2 separate regions of the Homo sapiens genome follow, and region 1 is linked to region 2. The links come from fine-mapping of genetic effects on gene expression. Tissue or cell type: monocytes after LPS. Region 2 holds a variant in brackets; the other region holds the start of a gene. All regions are shown on one strand. Distances are between the middles of the regions.

The links. PIP is the estimated chance that this variant, and not a neighbour inherited with it, causes the effect.
Region 1: SERPINE2 starts here. The variant in region 2 is fine-mapped to the expression of SERPINE2 in monocytes after LPS (Quach 2016, PIP 0.95).

Annotation. Positions count from the first base shown.
Region 1 is chr2:224,035,999-224,044,183 of GRCh38, forward strand. It overlaps SERPINE2 (serpin family E member 2), which reads right to left and starts at 3,288. Exons shown (of 9, transcript NM_001136528.2): 1 at 3,101-3,288. It overlaps LOC124907991 (a long non-coding RNA gene), which reads left to right and starts at 3,404. Exons shown (of 2, transcript XR_007088103.1): 1 at 3,404-3,544; 2 at 5,720-6,494. RefSeq lists a silencer at 3,454-3,748.
Region 2 is chr2:224,083,556-224,091,740 of GRCh38, forward strand. No RefSeq gene overlaps it. Among named protein-coding and RNA genes, the nearest start is that of SERPINE2, 48 kb to the left of the region's middle. The variant C/T (reference allele first, on the strand shown) is at 3,294.

The DNA of each region.
Region 1 (8,185 bases), 48 kb before region 2:
AAACGGACAAATCTTCGCTAACAATGAAGCGGATATGGGGTGGGTGGTGAAAACTAAAATCAATTTTGGATTTATTTTGGGGTGTTTTTTTGGCCTAAAGGGCACGGGTAAGCGCACCAGACTGCAGGTAACTGATTGGAACACAGGAGCATGCTCAAGCTAGCTTAACATGCCAATCTGGGACTCGCTTCATATTGGTGAGAGTCGAAGCTGTGGGAACATGGTTCACCCAAATACACAGAGCACAAAAGGGATGACAGCGAACCCTGGGTAACCCCAAGAGGTAGCAGAGATGCCAGGGAGGAATAAGGAAAACCAGAAGGTGGCAACCAGGGATGGAAAAAAAAAAAAAAACCATCAGAAAGGAATAGAAGAACCTCATCAAATGCCACGGAGAAACCTAGTGGGTATCCATAAGATTGCTTGTTCAGATGAGAACACAGGGACACAGGGAGGGAAACATCACACACTGGGGCCTGTGGTGGGGGGCGGGGAGTGAGGTAGGGGAGGGATAGCATTAGGAGAAATACCTAATGTGATGGGTTGATGGGTGCAGCAAACCACCATGGCACGTGTATACCTATGTAACAAACCTGCACGTTCTGCACATGTACCCCAGAGCTTAAAGCATATTAATAAAAATTAAAAAAAAAAAAAAAAGATTGCTTGTTCAGGAAGTCACAGGCCTTGAACTTTGAGGAGACTCTGGCCAGCTTGCAAAGAGCTGAACAGGAAGGGCAGACCAGTTTAAGAAGCCTGGAGAGACGTGGTTGTCACTACAGGTGAGCTGAGGATGCAGGGACAAGGGAGGTTAAGGCATTCTTAAAATACTACTAAAAAAGAAAAAAGCTCACAGGGAGAGACTGAAGATAAAAGTAAGAAAAGGGAGTAACACTCACAAGGAGAGAGAGGCACTGGGAGTTGGGATTCAGGACACAGCTGGAGACATTAGTCACTGCCCCAAGGAGGCCATCTCTCTATATTTCTCTAAGTTCTCAGTCTAACTTGATTTTTCTTTATAATTCTACCTTATTCATTTATCATACATTTTACAACATATTATGTTTGCTTTTAGTTGGTTTTCTCCCACAAGAATGACAGTTTCAAGCGAGCAAGGATCTGCTCTATTTACCACCTATGAGTATCCAACAAAGTACCCAGACACAGTAGATGCTTAAGAAGATTTATTGGATGACTGGGTAAACACAGAAAAGTCTGTACAGGGGAGATGGGGGAGGACGTGAGGAGATACTTATGACCTCTATTCTCCTGGTAGAATGGGCTACAAAGTCACCTGCCAAACCCGCAAGAGGAAAAGCATTGGAGATCGCTTGCATTGAAGATTACAGTGGGAGTCCGGTTTGCAACCCGGAAGGAAGGAGCTTGCGGGTTGGAGGCACTAAGAGTTTTCAGAAGTTGAGCATCTCAAGAGAGGGCAAGACTTGGAGGTACTTAGAGGACTTGGTAGCTGGAGTACATGGAAGACACTGGATTTGAGACAGTCAAGGAAGTGCGCATCTAGAGCGTCCCCCACATGGACTTTAGGTCTAGAGGAGGAGAAATAGCCCAAGAGCCAAAGTCCCCATGCGATGGGAAAAGAACTGGCTGGAAGAGGACAGCAAGGCTGAGATGCACCCAGGGACGTGGCCAGGTCACCACCTCATTTCCAACTCTACCACCTCAAACAATCTCTGACTGGTATTTAATCACCCTTGTGTGGAAGTGAAAATTAGCTTTTTTTGGAGACAGTACTTTTAAAATTAAACTAATATGAAGTTCATGGGACACGGAAATTTTCTGCATAGATTCATTTTTGTTTTTAGAATAAAATACGATGACATTTTCATGACCTTCAGTAATTGCCCTGCATGGTACGATATTTTCAAACATTATTTTAACAAAGAATCAAAATTTGGGGGTTAAAAGAAACCTTAGATTACTCAGGTTAGTACCTTCATTTGCATAGCCAAAAATTTTTCTATTGAAATACTGCAAATAGCAAATAAGTACTGATTTAGACCTTCAGATAGTGTTGAAACTGTCTTCAATTTTCGAAGTGTGGTTTAGGATATACAAATTAGCAATGTTGACAATTCTTCCAGTTATCTGTGCTCAAGTTTTGATATAAAATCTTCAAAGTACACAATTATCACATATATTGTTCCACAACAATTCAGACAAATAAACGGCTTCTTGGCTTGAAAGAGGAAGTCACACCTTCGAACACCTTTTTATGCTGATGCTAAATATAAGAACGTCCCCTGCAAAGTAGCCAAAGCAAGACAGCAGCATTCGAGATTTCTCCAGAGACACACACACAAAGAATGTGTTTCGTTCATTAAAACACTAAAACCTTCAACAGCATCTTCCATAATACCTGAAGGTGGAGTGCTGTCTTATGTAATAGAAGCCTTCCTTCCCCGCTCAGTTTGTGGACACATTAAATGCCTAATTCCTTCCAGAATTTCTGAGTACCGTACTTTCATTTTACCTGCAGTCACTCATCCGCCTCGCAACTCCCGTTTCTACAGATGATGAAAATAGCAAAGACCTGCTCGCTCGGGTTAAATCGGCTGCCAGAGGCCAAGTTAAAGGCTTTCCCCACACCGCGCGTCACCTCCCTCTGCCCAGGCAGAGGTAACAAGTAAGAGTGCGCCAGTCTCTCCCCATCCGGCGGCGCGCAGCCTAAGTCCGGGGTAGGGGTTGCCGGCGAGCAGCTGGAAACCTCAGGTTCAGGGTCAGGGCCGGCTCGGATGGCCGGGCAGGAGCCACGCCGGCCCCGGTGCTCCCAGCTGCGGGTATCACTGGACGCCACCCCGGGGCGGCCCCGCCTTGCCCTGCCCGGGTCCCGCTCGGGGCTCCCGGCGGGCGGGACCGGGATGCCCGGCGAGCACCCAGCCCCGGCCAAGGCGGCCCGCGGGAGGCTGAGAAAGTTCTCTGCTCCCCGACGTCGGCGCCCCAGGGTCCCGCTGGCCCCGCAGCTTCCCGGCCGGGCGCAAGGTCAGGGAGCAGGGCCGGTGGCGCGCGGAGCCCCGGGGAGCGTCCCCCGCCGAGGGCAGCGCCGGCCGCGCCCGGGACTCACCGCGCAGCCTGTACTCACCGCGCTCGCTGGATCCCCAGGGGGCGGCCGCGGAGGGCGGTGCGGCCGCAACCGGAGCGGGAGCCTGGTCTCGGCGGCGCGGGGAGTCGGAGGACGCAGCCAAGCGGCGGCGGCGAGGAGGGTCACAGCCGGAAAGAGGCAGCGGTGGCGCCTGCAGACGCCGCGCAGCCCGGGCAGCCCCACAGCGCAAGCTGGCTGCCGCGGCGGCGGGGGCTTTATCGGCGGCGCCGCGCGGGCCCCCGCCCCTTCCTGCCGCCCCCGCCCCCGGCCCGCCTTGCCCCGCCTTCCCGCCGCCTCCTTTGTGTGGCCGCGGGCCGCAGCGTCCCCGCGCCCGGCCTCCAGGACGCCCCCTCTCCGCCTGCGACTTCTCGGATGCCGCCCCGCCAGGGGTCCGTGTCGTGGGGCTGCGCCCGGAACGCGCCGGGGAGACGCGCAGACCCCGAGGTGCGGCGCCAGCCCGGGCCCAGCTGCACGTGGGTCTCCCGGATGGGGGTGTGTGAGGTGGCGGGGGGAATACCAGGGCTCGTACCGCGTCCCTGAGACGCAGGGCATGTCGTCTTGGCTGCCCCCTGGAAGAGACAGAGGGCGCCCTGAGACAGCGCTCAGTCCTCCGGGTGATGGGGAAACGGTGCCAGGACGCGGCCGGGAAGGGGCAGATAACCCCTCGAGGCGTTTTGCAGGGTGTCCTAGAGCTGACTTCTCCCTGCCTAGGGGACAGAGGAACGGCGGCAAGTCGCCTTAGGCAAATACAGACGAGGGGAACCAGAAAACTGGATTCCCGGCTATGGTGATAGCATGAGGTACCCGCAGCGTCCTGGGAACCCAGCCCTTCTCAGCCGGTAACCACTGCTGCTGGGACCCGGTGCGCGATAGACAGGCACATACCCCAGGGGCCTGCAACAAATGACCGTCCCGCTCCGGGCTCTGTTACCTGGACCTCTCTTAGTTGGTTCCTCCTTTGCCTCTAGTTAGGTTTCTGGGGACCCAAGGACCCAACTTTAATGACAGTAATTTATGTAGCCGTTAGTGTAGAATCGTCGCTAGCAGGCAGACGGCCCCAACAGCGAGGAAGAAATGTAAATCTCCCTATACACAGCCCTGGATTAAGGGTACAGCTACTGATGAGAGCCACTTGGAAGATCAGCCTGCAGTCACCCCTTGGCATGCAGGTGGCCGTGCCAGAGTGTGCACGTGTGTGTTGGGGAAGGGGTTGCTCTGAAAAGTGTAAAATCTGGACCAGCCTAAGGGTGTTCTCAGTCTCTCATAGAGGGAAACAGGCTATGGGAGGCTTGGTCCTAAAATAAGGAGCAAACAGTCTACAAAAATGAGCATCTGTTTAATTATTTTACAGTCATACCAAATATTTATATTCAGTTACAGGGTAACTTTCTTATTCTCTGTGCCTGAAATGCTTTTTGTCCCAGGATCTTCTATGTTGTCTGCATCCTTACACTTGAGGTCACAACTCAAATGTCCTCTCCCCTAGGAAGCCTCCCCTGACCACTTGAGATAAAGTCACTTTATCCCCTCTAACCTATGACTTCCTTCATAACCCTCATCATGAATTGATTTTTTTTTTACCTTGTTTCTTGCTAGTTTTCTTCTACTCTCTCTCATTGGAATATACTCCCAGAGACCAGGGAAGAGAAACTAATTTCAATATTGTTTCCAACTCACTCTATCCCTAGTGCCTAGAGCCATACCACACATATAGCAGTTACTCAATAAATTTTGTTGACGAGTGGATGAACTACTAGCCAAGTGACTTTTAGACATGCTAAGAACTGTTTCAGTGACAGTATTGTGCTTGGTCCAGTCAGGGCGGTGTGGGCTGGAGCTGGGAACAATTCAAAGGAGGGGGGAAAGCCCACAGGTGTGAATGAGCTCGTTCAGTGTGTTTGAAAAGCTGGGAGTATCCTCTTCCAGATGGAAGGGAGTCATTCAAGAAACTACTGGAGAAATAACTGGGAAATGTGGGTGAAGCCAGATTATTATGAAAATGTGCCAGAATCCCTGCATCCATTTCTGTCTCAATCACATTTCTAAATTAAAATTTGTAATAGAGGTAATTGTAGGCTGGCATGCAGTTGTTAAGAAATGATTCAGAGAGGTCTCTTTTACACTTTGCCAAGTCTTCCTCATGGTAACATTTTGCAAAACCATTGTATAATATCACAATCAGGATATTAACATTGATACGTTGATTCCTATCTCACACACTTTGGTTAATTATGTGTAACTTTAAATTTTTACTAAAGTTACTCAAACCAGTGAGAGAAATGCACAAAATTACTATTTTGAAGAGTTTCAGTCTCTTGTCTTGAAGGAGCCAATGTTTTTCAAGAAAAAACAACAACAAGCCTTTTTTGCTTTCCCAATTAGAGTGTAAATAGGGTCCAAATTCTTCATCTATGAAAGACGTTAGAAGTCCTTAGGACTTACCTCTTTGGGTTACACTTTAATGACTGACATTTACTTCCCCATTCTTTCCTGTAGTGTCGAAGGAACATTTTGAGCAATACTGTACGTGACTTGTCAATTCTGAAATCACAGTGGATGCAGTGCTAACTAATATGCTAAAGTAAGCCTAGACACTAATGTTCCCTTCTCTCTCGCTAGACATGCGATGAGGCCAACGATGAGGTCTCCCAAAGGAAAGTGATTGAAGACAAAGACCCATTCTGCCAGTGGGATATGCTGGGAATACCAACTATACTTGTTACTGAGTGTGCATGGCTGGTGTTGGCCAGCCTTCCTGATGCCAGCAAGAGGAGACAGAAGTAATGACCCAAGCTACACTTTCCATGACACTCAAATGGCCAGGCTCTTTGACACCCACCGTGAGGGGCTGTTCCAAAGATGTTGTGTTCCTACCTCAGTTGGTCCCCACAAGCAGCAGGTTCCTCCTCCAGTATTCTCCAATATTTGACCCTTTTTGAGATGCATTTCTCATAGATGTGTACTTCCAATCCACATTTCCTTCCTACCTCTACCTCGGTTTTGTTTGAGAAATCCAAATCATTTAACACTTCTACCTGCTGTTTCTTTGTGACTTCACATTCACAGTGAAATTTCATTTTGTCCTGCAATTGTGTGGCTTGCCTTAATCCGCAAATAGAGCTTCAAATTGTTTATTCCTTTGACCTGGAGTTTAGCCAGCTCCAGCTAGGCTCTGAGTTTGGCTTTGTGTCCATAAGCCACAGTTGGGAGAAATGCAAGAACTGCCCAAACAGAATAAAACAAATGATCTATTTAGTCTTGTTTCCTCTCTTGGAAGAAGTCCAGCGTTGAGTGCCTTGGAATAAATGAAAATCCCCCACCCCACCTCCACTGCTCTCCCATGCACCCAAACAGTATGACCTTGTGTTTAAGTAAAAACCGTCCTTAGCTCCCAGTGGGATGATGGTGTTTTGTCTGGAAGACTGACGGATGTTATGATAATAAGATAATGGATACTCACTTCTCTCCTATCTAACCCCTATTTAAAAGACATTACACCGTAACAGTGCTTGTTACGCAATATTATAGTTGCAAATGTTGTTATGGAAGATTGTTTCAACCAGGGGAAAAGAGACTGGTAATAACAGTACACTTATACAATTAGTTTCTGAAACTGTTGCATTGCTTTGGGGTTTTTTTTTTTAGCTTAGAAAAGACATTTATCTTTTTATTTCCCTTTAAAGTTGGCTTTCAAATAAATTCAATTTCCTCTTTCTGTAACTTCTGAAACAGATTAAACCAGAGCATCAGTTTGCACTTTGCTATTGTCGTCACTAGTTTTCACCAAGAGCTTCAGAGAAAAGACATTACTAAGTGCTGGGCTGGGTATTATTTTCTACTTATATGTGACCAAATAGGATGTAACAGCCAGGTTCTGAGAGTCGTTGTGATACTGACCCCTTCAAACAACAGCCCAGCTGCTCTCCTTCCTTTTACCACCAAACAATAGATGCTGCCTCCCTTTTTCCATGGGTCTCTTCGGTCAATCTTCTTACCCCATCATCGGGCTCCCCTCCTTTTCTTCCTCGCTTCCTCGGGCCCTCCTTCTCTCCCAAATGTTACCAATAGCTTCCAATGGCAACCCCAGTAGTTTTTCAACATTCTTTATCACCTTTGAGTCCTTGGCAGGATTTCACTCTCATATGTGTGCCCATTTTTTGGAAACTCCTTTGCCTATTTTCTCTCTTCCTATGCCTTAACTTGCCTTTATCCTTTTTCCATCAAATCTTCCAACAGGTGGGCACCATGCAGTTGACTGTCCTCAGCTCCCTCCTCTTTTCTCCACACTCTCTCCCAGTGGAACGAACATTGATTTATCTGTGGCCACCAACACTTGTTCCCCTCCTCACCTTTTGATAGTGGAAACACCTCTTCTATTTTATGCAGCATTTTGTTGGGAAGGAAATCAAGGTATCCTTACTTTCACTAGCCAAGGGATGGGCATATGACCAAGCTCACTGGATTCCCTCCCAGTTCTTTGAATCTTGAAAAGAATGAAAAAGTAATTGCAGCTGACTTATCTCAGCTTGATGAATGATGAATTTGTGAGTTCTTCCTACCCGGACCTCAGAGCTGCCATAGACCCTGTCCCGTCTGAGCAGAGGTCCACAGTGAACTCTGTTTCTGTGAGACTTTTCTACTTGTTAGCCAGATTCAGTTTCTGTTGCCAGCAACCTAGGATGCCTAACTGACATACCTTAAATGTCTGTAACTTTGCTTAGTTCTGGATGAATTCTAAGCCCATATCTACAGATGGCCTTGGCCACCATCCCAAGGTACCACTCATCTATCTCCAAGTGCCTGGCAGACACCTCCACTTAATATCCCACCATCACCTCCCACCTAACAAGTCAAACCCACTTATTATCTTCATCCCCCAACCAGTTCTTCCTCCTGTGTTCCATGTGTTTTACAGACATGACTTCCATCTCAGTCACCAAAGCACAAAGATGGGAATGAATTCTTTCTTTCTTTCTTCTTTCCTTCCTTCCTTCCTTCCTTCCTTCCTTTTTCTTTCTTTCCCTCTTTCTTTTCTTTCTTTCTTTCTTTCTTTCTTTCTTTCTTTCTTTCTTTCTTTCTTTCTTT
Region 2 (8,185 bases):
TGAGATCAGTGCCACTGCACTCCAGCCTGGGCAACAGAGCAACACTCTGTCTCAAAAAAAAAAAAAAAAAAAGAAAGGAAAAAAAGAAAAAGAAAAAAATCGTGAATCGTAGATTCTACCTGAGTCTTCAGCAAATGTTTTCCAGAAGTCAGTGCTCACTCATCTAAGTTTTCCAGCAAGGTTTGGTGGAAATGAATGTGTGAGGGTGTGTGTGTGTGTGTGTGTGTGTGTGTAGCAAATAAACAAACATGTAACCTCCAAGCTCAGTTATTCTTCTCTTTGTTTTATAGTTCTCCACCTATGAACTATGGACTATAAACTATGTTTTATAGTTCTCCAACCAGTTGACTAGTAGGCTGGGGAACATTTGAGTAGGATAGTAGAATGCTATGTTTAATTTTTCTTCTTTATCCTTATTTTGTACTATTGCAAACCAGAGGCCAAGAAAAGAAAAAAGAAAAAAAAAAAGAAAGAAAATTCCTGAAATCTAAGCAAAACACAATTTCCCAATAAAGAAAGAAGCTTTTTGCTTTTCTTTGAATTCTAGAAACTTTGTCTCACTACTCTTTCTGTTTCTATTACATTTTTGAGTGTCTGGGTTTCCATCTCCAATTAGCAAATACCTCAGAGAAGGGGAATAGTCGGTTGGGGGAAGAGGTTTGTAAATGTGCTGTGTGCCTCAGTAGGACCTTGTGTAGGAAAGAGAAGAATAACTGAACTTGGAGGTTATATTCAGCATTCTGGTGCTGTGATTGCCAGGAAGTTTGTGTATTTTGGACTAGCTGTCTCTTGTGTGTGGCTCCCAGCCTATCTTCCTTTGGAAAGCTGTCCTTCCCTCCATGTTGGTAGGATAAGAGCCCTGTTTTCCCCTGACACTAGGGTGGACACATGACCCAAGACTGGCCAATCAGAGTAGCCCATTACTCTGACTGTGGTAATTGGCTCAGCCATGAGCACATGACTCAAACAGGCCCACCAAAACCCTGCCTTGCGATGCGATCTGTGAAAGCAGAAAAAGAGTCTCTCTCTTCTTTGAGGGCCAGGAGTTATAAGGGCAAGGTGGTCTTGGGGTTATGAGCAGACATCTTGCTGGTGATAGACGGAGAGAGAGCCTAAGATTGAAACCCAGCAGAGGTATATGGAGAGAGAGGGAGAAGAGAGTACAGGAATCACAAACTGGGGCCCAGATCTTATCATACTGAAACCAGATACACATTTCAGATTTCCCAGCCAATACATTACTTTTTTTTTTTTTTTTGCTTAAGTGCTAGTTTGAGTTGTTTCCATCTTTTGTGTAGACACACACACACACACACACACACACACACACATACACACACTCACATATTCATTTCCACCAAACCTTGTTGGAAAAATTAGATATAAATTCATGTATACTTTCCATCCACCACCAAACATTGGCCATTTCTCATGTAGGACAGTTAGGTAGCTTTTCTGGACTCAAATATATAACAGAAAACTTTCCATTCTTCAAGTACAGATTATTATCCAGAAGAAAAGTCAAAGCATATGTTTGTATCTGTGATAAGAACAAACAGTGCCGAGAGTGAGTTGCTTAATGGAAATTAATTTTCATTTTGAATGTACTTTATTACAACTTCATTACCTAATTAGAAGTGGTATTTTCAGCCAACTCTTTGTTCTTATTCATAACAAGAAAACCTATTTTTCCTTAGGTTGATAAACAAGTGAATATTTTTTTTCCTATATCTTAAGTTTAAAAAGAAAAGTCATAAACTGGGGAGCTCGGTGGGCTGTATTTGTGACTTGTACAAAATGATCCCACTTCCTGAGCCATTGAAAGACAAATTGCTGTTGAAAACAGTGTTCTGGTTGTTGCCAGGCCACTTAAGCTAATACTGAAGATGAGTCATTAGATATAAACCCTAGGAAGTGAAGACTCAGAAGGAGAGGAGATGGACCTGTGACCTCCTTTTCCATCCTCATTCACTGCAGTAAAGAAGGAAAACCCAACCATATAGATAAATTGGAAGCCCTGGGAGTCCTAACTTTAGACCTACTTCTACCAACGTTAAGAAACTGAATAAGGAAATTCTTTAGCCTCTCTCAGTTTCTGTACTACAAGTGGGATTGTCTAAGGGTTCTGGTGATGATTCCATTGAAAAATCTTGGATTAATAAAGCAGCCAACAGCAGACTTTTTTAGTGATCTTAACACTTCACGACTTGAAACACCACTTAGAGAAAATGCCACGAGTCTCAGGAAATTATTACCATGTTACCTTGGAATACTAATTGTAGTTCTGCAAAGTCAGGTTGCCCTGGAAAGTCCTAGAATTCTGTTTAATACGGTAGTATTCTTTTTCTTTGTCTCCATTAATCATTTAGTGAAAGTGACCAAATATAATATTATGAAGCTCTGAGGCAAGTCAGAAACTATTTGAGCTGGAAGAGAATATAACCTATTAACTTTCTAAATGAATGAAGAGTAACTCATAGCAGTTGTGAGATTTGCTCAAAAGGTCTGATTGTTGTTTAGGGGTAGCTCAGGCACCAGGATTAAGTGTTTATTAAGTGTTTGTCACGCATTCTGCTCACCAGCTTCCATCAGCCTTTCTCAAAGCATGTGCCTTCGAATACTAGTGAGCAGATATTTTGTACAAAAGACTTTATATTTTGTACAAGACTATATTTTGTACAAAAAGACTTTACTAGACAAATGTATTTGGGAAGTAGCATGTACTGTAGCTCTTCTTGGAGCATACTAAAGACCAACAAAAAAGGTTATTTACCTATACTTATCAGAGAGTTTTCCCAGAATGTTTGGCTAAGGAAAGCTTCTTCTGTGGAACACTCACTCAACATGAGTAGGTCAAGTTTTCCATGCGAGAAAGACTTGTAAGTCTGATTGGTATTTGTTCTGCCTCGTAAACTCAAGCTTCTGGGTACATTTTAAACTCTGTTCTGGGGTTTATTGGGCCAGCTTAAAATATAAAAATGCTAAATTAAAAAATTAAATATTCTACTAGGGGAAAATTTCAGGCATATTGTTTCCAGCATTTTAACAGCAAAATACCAAAATGCCATAACTTAGGAAATACCAAAGTGCCATAACTCAGTGAAATTTAGCATGTGGTTTTTGGAATCAAACACTCTGACAATTAACTGTCTGAGTAAGCTTGAAATATGAGCCCATGAGTCAGGATGACCAAGCCAGCTCTACATGGGTGTGCCTAGTAGACAAAGAATTATTAGTAACACTAAGTGGGCCTATTAGCCAATACTATCACACGTCTTCTAGTAAAATTGCTA[C/T]ATTTCACTAGGAGATGTGCAATTCATATGGCTTCAGGGACCAGGCAGTTGCCTACATTGAGAAAAACACAATAAGGAGTACAAAGGACCATTTCGATTTGGGGACCACCTGCCCCCTAAAAACAAAAGAAAGAAATTACACTATATCATCCAAGTAAGATTCATTTGTGGGCTGAATTATTACATGGGCTGACTATGTGCTCTGTGTTAGCCTTAAAAGTGTAGGCATGATTTCAGCAATAGCAGCTAGAGTGATCCTAGGAAATTGTGCCATTCTGCTACCTCATAGGATCAGGGAGCAGAGGAAACAGCATATCAGCGTCAGGATTTAGGATTCAAGATTATAATCCATGAGCTTTATCTTACAAACAATATGTGGATTTGCCATTCCTATGAAATTAGCAGAGAAGGAAATATATTTATCATCCAAACCAGCCTGATCATTATTGATTTGTTTGTTAGTTCAGAGAAATCTAGAGGAGCCCTACTTCTGGGGCATTATTTTTCACTCGCGTCCATGTGAAGAGACCACCAAACAGGCTTTGTGTGAGCAATAAAGCTTTTTAATCACCTGGGTGCAGGCAGGCTGAGTCTGAAAAGAGAGTCAGTGAAGGGAGATGGGGTGGGGACATTTTATAAGATTTGGGTGGGTAGTGGAAAATTATAGTCAAAGGGGGTTGTTCTCTGGCAGGCAGCGGTGGGGGTCACAAGGTGCTCAGTGGGGGAGCTTTTGAGCCAGGATGAGCCAGGAGAAGGAATTTCATAAGGTAATGTCATCAGTTAAGGCAGGGACTGGCAATTTTCACTTCTTTTGTGATTCTTCAGTTACTTCAGGCCATCTGGATGTATACGTGCAGGTCACAGGAGATATGATGGCTTAGCTTGGTCTCAGAGGCCTGACATTCCTGTCTTCTTATATTAATAAGAAAAATAAAACGAAATAGTGGTAAAGTGTTGGGGCAGCGAAAATTTTGGGGGGTCGTATGGAGAGATAATGGGCGATGTTTCTCAGGGCTGCTTCAAGCGGGATTGGGGCAACGTGTGAACCTAGAGTGGGAGAGATTAAGCTGAAGGAAGATTGTGTGGTAAGGGGCGATATTGTGGGGTTGTTAAAAGGAGCATTTGTCATACAGAATGATTGGTGATGGCCTGGATGCAGTTTTGTATGAATTGAGAGACTAAACAGAAGACACAAGGTCCGAATAAGAGAAGGAGAAAAACAGGTATTAAAGGACTAAGAATTGGGAGGGCCCAGAACATCCAATTAGAGAGTGCATAAGGGGGTTCAGCCTAATTACTTGCATGGTTGGCAAGTTTTTGGGCTGTATCCTTGACAGAGTCCTCCTTTTTAAGTTGGAGGCTGAGCTTAGTGAGGTGTGTTTCTAAAAGACCATTAGTGTGTTCTACCTTTCCTGAAGATTGAGGCATAAGGGGTATGAAGTTTCCACTGAATACCAAGAGCCTGAGAAACTGCTTGGGTGATTTGACTAATAAAGGCCAGTCTGTTATTGGACTGTATAGAGGTGGGAAGGCCAAACCGAGGAATTATGTCTGACAGAAGGGAAGAAATGACCGTGGTGGCCTTTTCAGACCATGTAGGAAAGGCCTCTACCCATCCAGTGAAAGTGTCTACCCAGACCAAGAGGTATTTTAGTTTCCTGACTTGGGGCATGTGAGTAAAGTCAATTTGCCAGTCCTGGACAGGGGCAAATCCCTGAGCTTGATGTGTAGGGAAGGGAGGGGTCCTGAGAAATCCCTGAGGATTAGTAGAATAGCAGATGGAATACTGAGAAGTGATTTCCTTAAGGATAGATTCTCATGATGGAAAGGAAATGAGAGGTTCTAAGAGATGGGCTAGCAGCTTGTAACCTACATGGAAGAGGTTATGAAATGATGACAGAATAGAATGGGCCTGTGAGGCTGGAAGGAGATATTTTCCTTGGTCCAAGAACCATTTGCCTTGGGTGGGAGAGATTGATAGGTGGAAGTTTTAGTGGGAGTAGGTGGGAGTGGCCAGATGAGAAGGAGAAAAACTGCCGTGAGGGATAGAAGTTGGAACGCCAGCTGCTTTTTTAGTTACCTTATCAGCATAAGCATTGTCCTGAGCAATGGGATCAGCCTTTTGATGGCTGCTTTTTTAGCTACCTTATCAGCATAAGTGTTGTCCTAAGTGATGGGATCTGATGCCTTTTGATGGCCCTTGCTGTCAATGACTCCAGCTTCCTTTGGAAGTAAAGCAGTTTTGAGAAGAGTTTTTATTAAAGAGGCGTTAATGATGGAGGACCCTTGTGTAGTGAGAAAACTTCTTTCAGCCCGTATAACAGCATGGTGGTGCAGGATATGGAAGGCATATTTAGAGTCAGTATAAATATTGACATGTAGTACCTTTGCAAGAGTGAGGGCCCGAGTTAAGGCAATGAGTTTGGCTTGCTGAGAGGTGGTGGAGGGGGGCAGAGTGGTAGCCAGATGTGGAAGATACTATAGCATGGCCTACCTTTGCTGGTGAGTGGCAGCGATTAAGCCTGGTGGAACTGCCATCAATAAACCAGGTGTGATCAGGATGAGGAACAGGAAAGAAGGAAATATGGGGAAATGGAGTGAATGTCAGGTGGATCAGAGAGATACAGTCATGGGGTTCAGGTGTGGTATCCGGAATAATGTGGGAGGCCAGATTGAAGTCTGGGCCAGGGACAATGGTAATTGTGGGAGACTCAACAAAGAGTGAGTATAGCTGAAGGAGCCAGGCAGCAGAAAGTATATGTGTCAGGTGGGAGGAAGAAAATAGATTTTGGAAGTTATGAGAACTGTAGAGAGTGAGTTGAGCATAGTTTGTGAATTTGAGGGCCTCTAAAAGTATTAAAGCAGTGGCAACCACCGCACGCAGACATGAGGGCTAGGCTAAAACAGTAAGGTCAAGTTGTTTGGACAGAAAGGCTCCAGGGCGTGGTCCCGGCTTTTGTGTAAGAACTCCAACCGCACAGCCCTGCACTTTGGCTGTGTGTGATGAAAAAGGGTTGGGATGAGTTATGGAAAGCCAGTGTGGGAGCAGCTTCTAGGTCTGTTTTTAAGGAACGGAAAGGAGTAGGGAAAGGATTTAGGATCTGTGGGGTCAACTAGGTTTGCTTTTGTGAGTTTATATAATGGTTTAGTCAGGATGGTAAAACTAAGTATCCAAAGGCGGAAGTACCTAACCATGCCTAGGAAGGAAAGGAGTTGTTGTTTTGTAGAAGGAATTGGGGTTTTGGAGATTAGCCAGATGTGATCAGCAGGGAGAGCACGTGTGTTTTCACGAAGAATTATGCTGAGATAGGTAATGGATGAGGAAGAAATTTGGGCTTGACTGAAGTAATGGGGGCTGTCTGTGAAGCCTTGCAGCAGTACAGTCCAGGTAATTTGCTGAGCCTGATGAGTGTCAGGGTCAGTCTAAGTGAAAGTGAAGAGAGGCTGGGATGAAGGGTGCAAAGGAATAGTAAAGAAAGCATGAGATCCAGAACAGAATAATGGGTTGTGGAGGGAGGTATTGAGGATAGGAGAGTATATGGCTTTGGCACCATGGGGTAGATAGGCAAGAAAATTTGGTTGATAATGTGTAGATCCTGAACTAACCTGTAAGGCTTGTCTGGTTTTAGGACAGGTAAAATGGGGGAATTGTAAGGAGAGTTTATAGGCTTTAAAAGGCCATGCTGTAGCGGGTGAGTGATAACAGACTTCAATCCTTTTAAAGCGTACTGTGGGATGGGATATTGGCGTTGAGCGGGGTAAGGGTGATTAGGTTTTAATGGGATGGTGAGGGCATGTGATCGGTTGCTAGGGAGGGAATGGAGGTGTCCTATACTTGTGGGTTAAGGTTAGGGGATACAAGGGAAGGATGTGAAGAAGGCTCTGAACTGGAGGAAACGGCGGCAATGAGATGTAGCTGTAGTCGAGGAATAGTCAGGGAAGCAGATAATTTAGTTAAAATGTCTCAACCTAATAAGGGAACTGGGCAGGTGGGGATAACTAAAAGGAGTGCTTAAAAGAGTATTGTCTAAGTTGGCACCAGAATTGGGGAGTTTTAAGAGGTTTAGAAGCCTGGCTGTCAATACCCACAACAGTTATGGAGGCAAAGGAAACAGGCCCTTGAAAAGAAGGTAATGTGGATTCGGTAGCCTCTGTATTGATTAAGAAGGGTGTGGACTTACCCTCCACTGTGAGAGTTACCCAAAGCTCGGCATCTGTGATGGTCTACAGGGCTTCTGAGGCGATCGGGCAGCATCAGTCTTCAGCTGCTAAGCTGAGAAGACCTGGGAAGGAGTCAGTCAGAGAGCCTTGGGCCAGAGTTCCAGGGACTCTGGAAGTGGCTGCCAGGTGAGTTGAACAGTCTGGTTTTCAGTGGGGTCCCGCACAGATGGGACATGGCTTAGGAGGAATTCTGGGCTGCGGGCATTCCTTGGCCCAGTGGCCAGATTTCCAGCACTTGTAGCAAGCTCCCGGGGGAAGAGATTTTGGGGGAACCCCTGGCAGCTGTGGTTCAGGTGTTTGGAGTTCTTGTGTGCTGGAGATGTGGCTGGGGTTTGTCTCACAGTGGAGGCAAGGAATTGCAACCTAGAAATATGTTGCTACTTGGCTGCCTCTACTCTATTATCTTACACCTTGAAAGCGAGGTTAATTAAGTGCTGTTGTGGGGTTTGAGGGCTGGAATTTAATCTTTGGAGTTTTATTTAATGTCGGGAGCAAATTGGGTAATAAAACGTATATTGAGAATAAGATGGCCTTTTGACCTTTTAGGGTCTAGGGCTGTAAAGCATCTCCGGGTTGCTGCCAAATGAGCCATGAACTGGGCTGGGTTTTATATTTGATGAAAAAGAGCCTGAACGCTAACTGATTTGGGAGAGGTGGGATAAAGAAAAAGG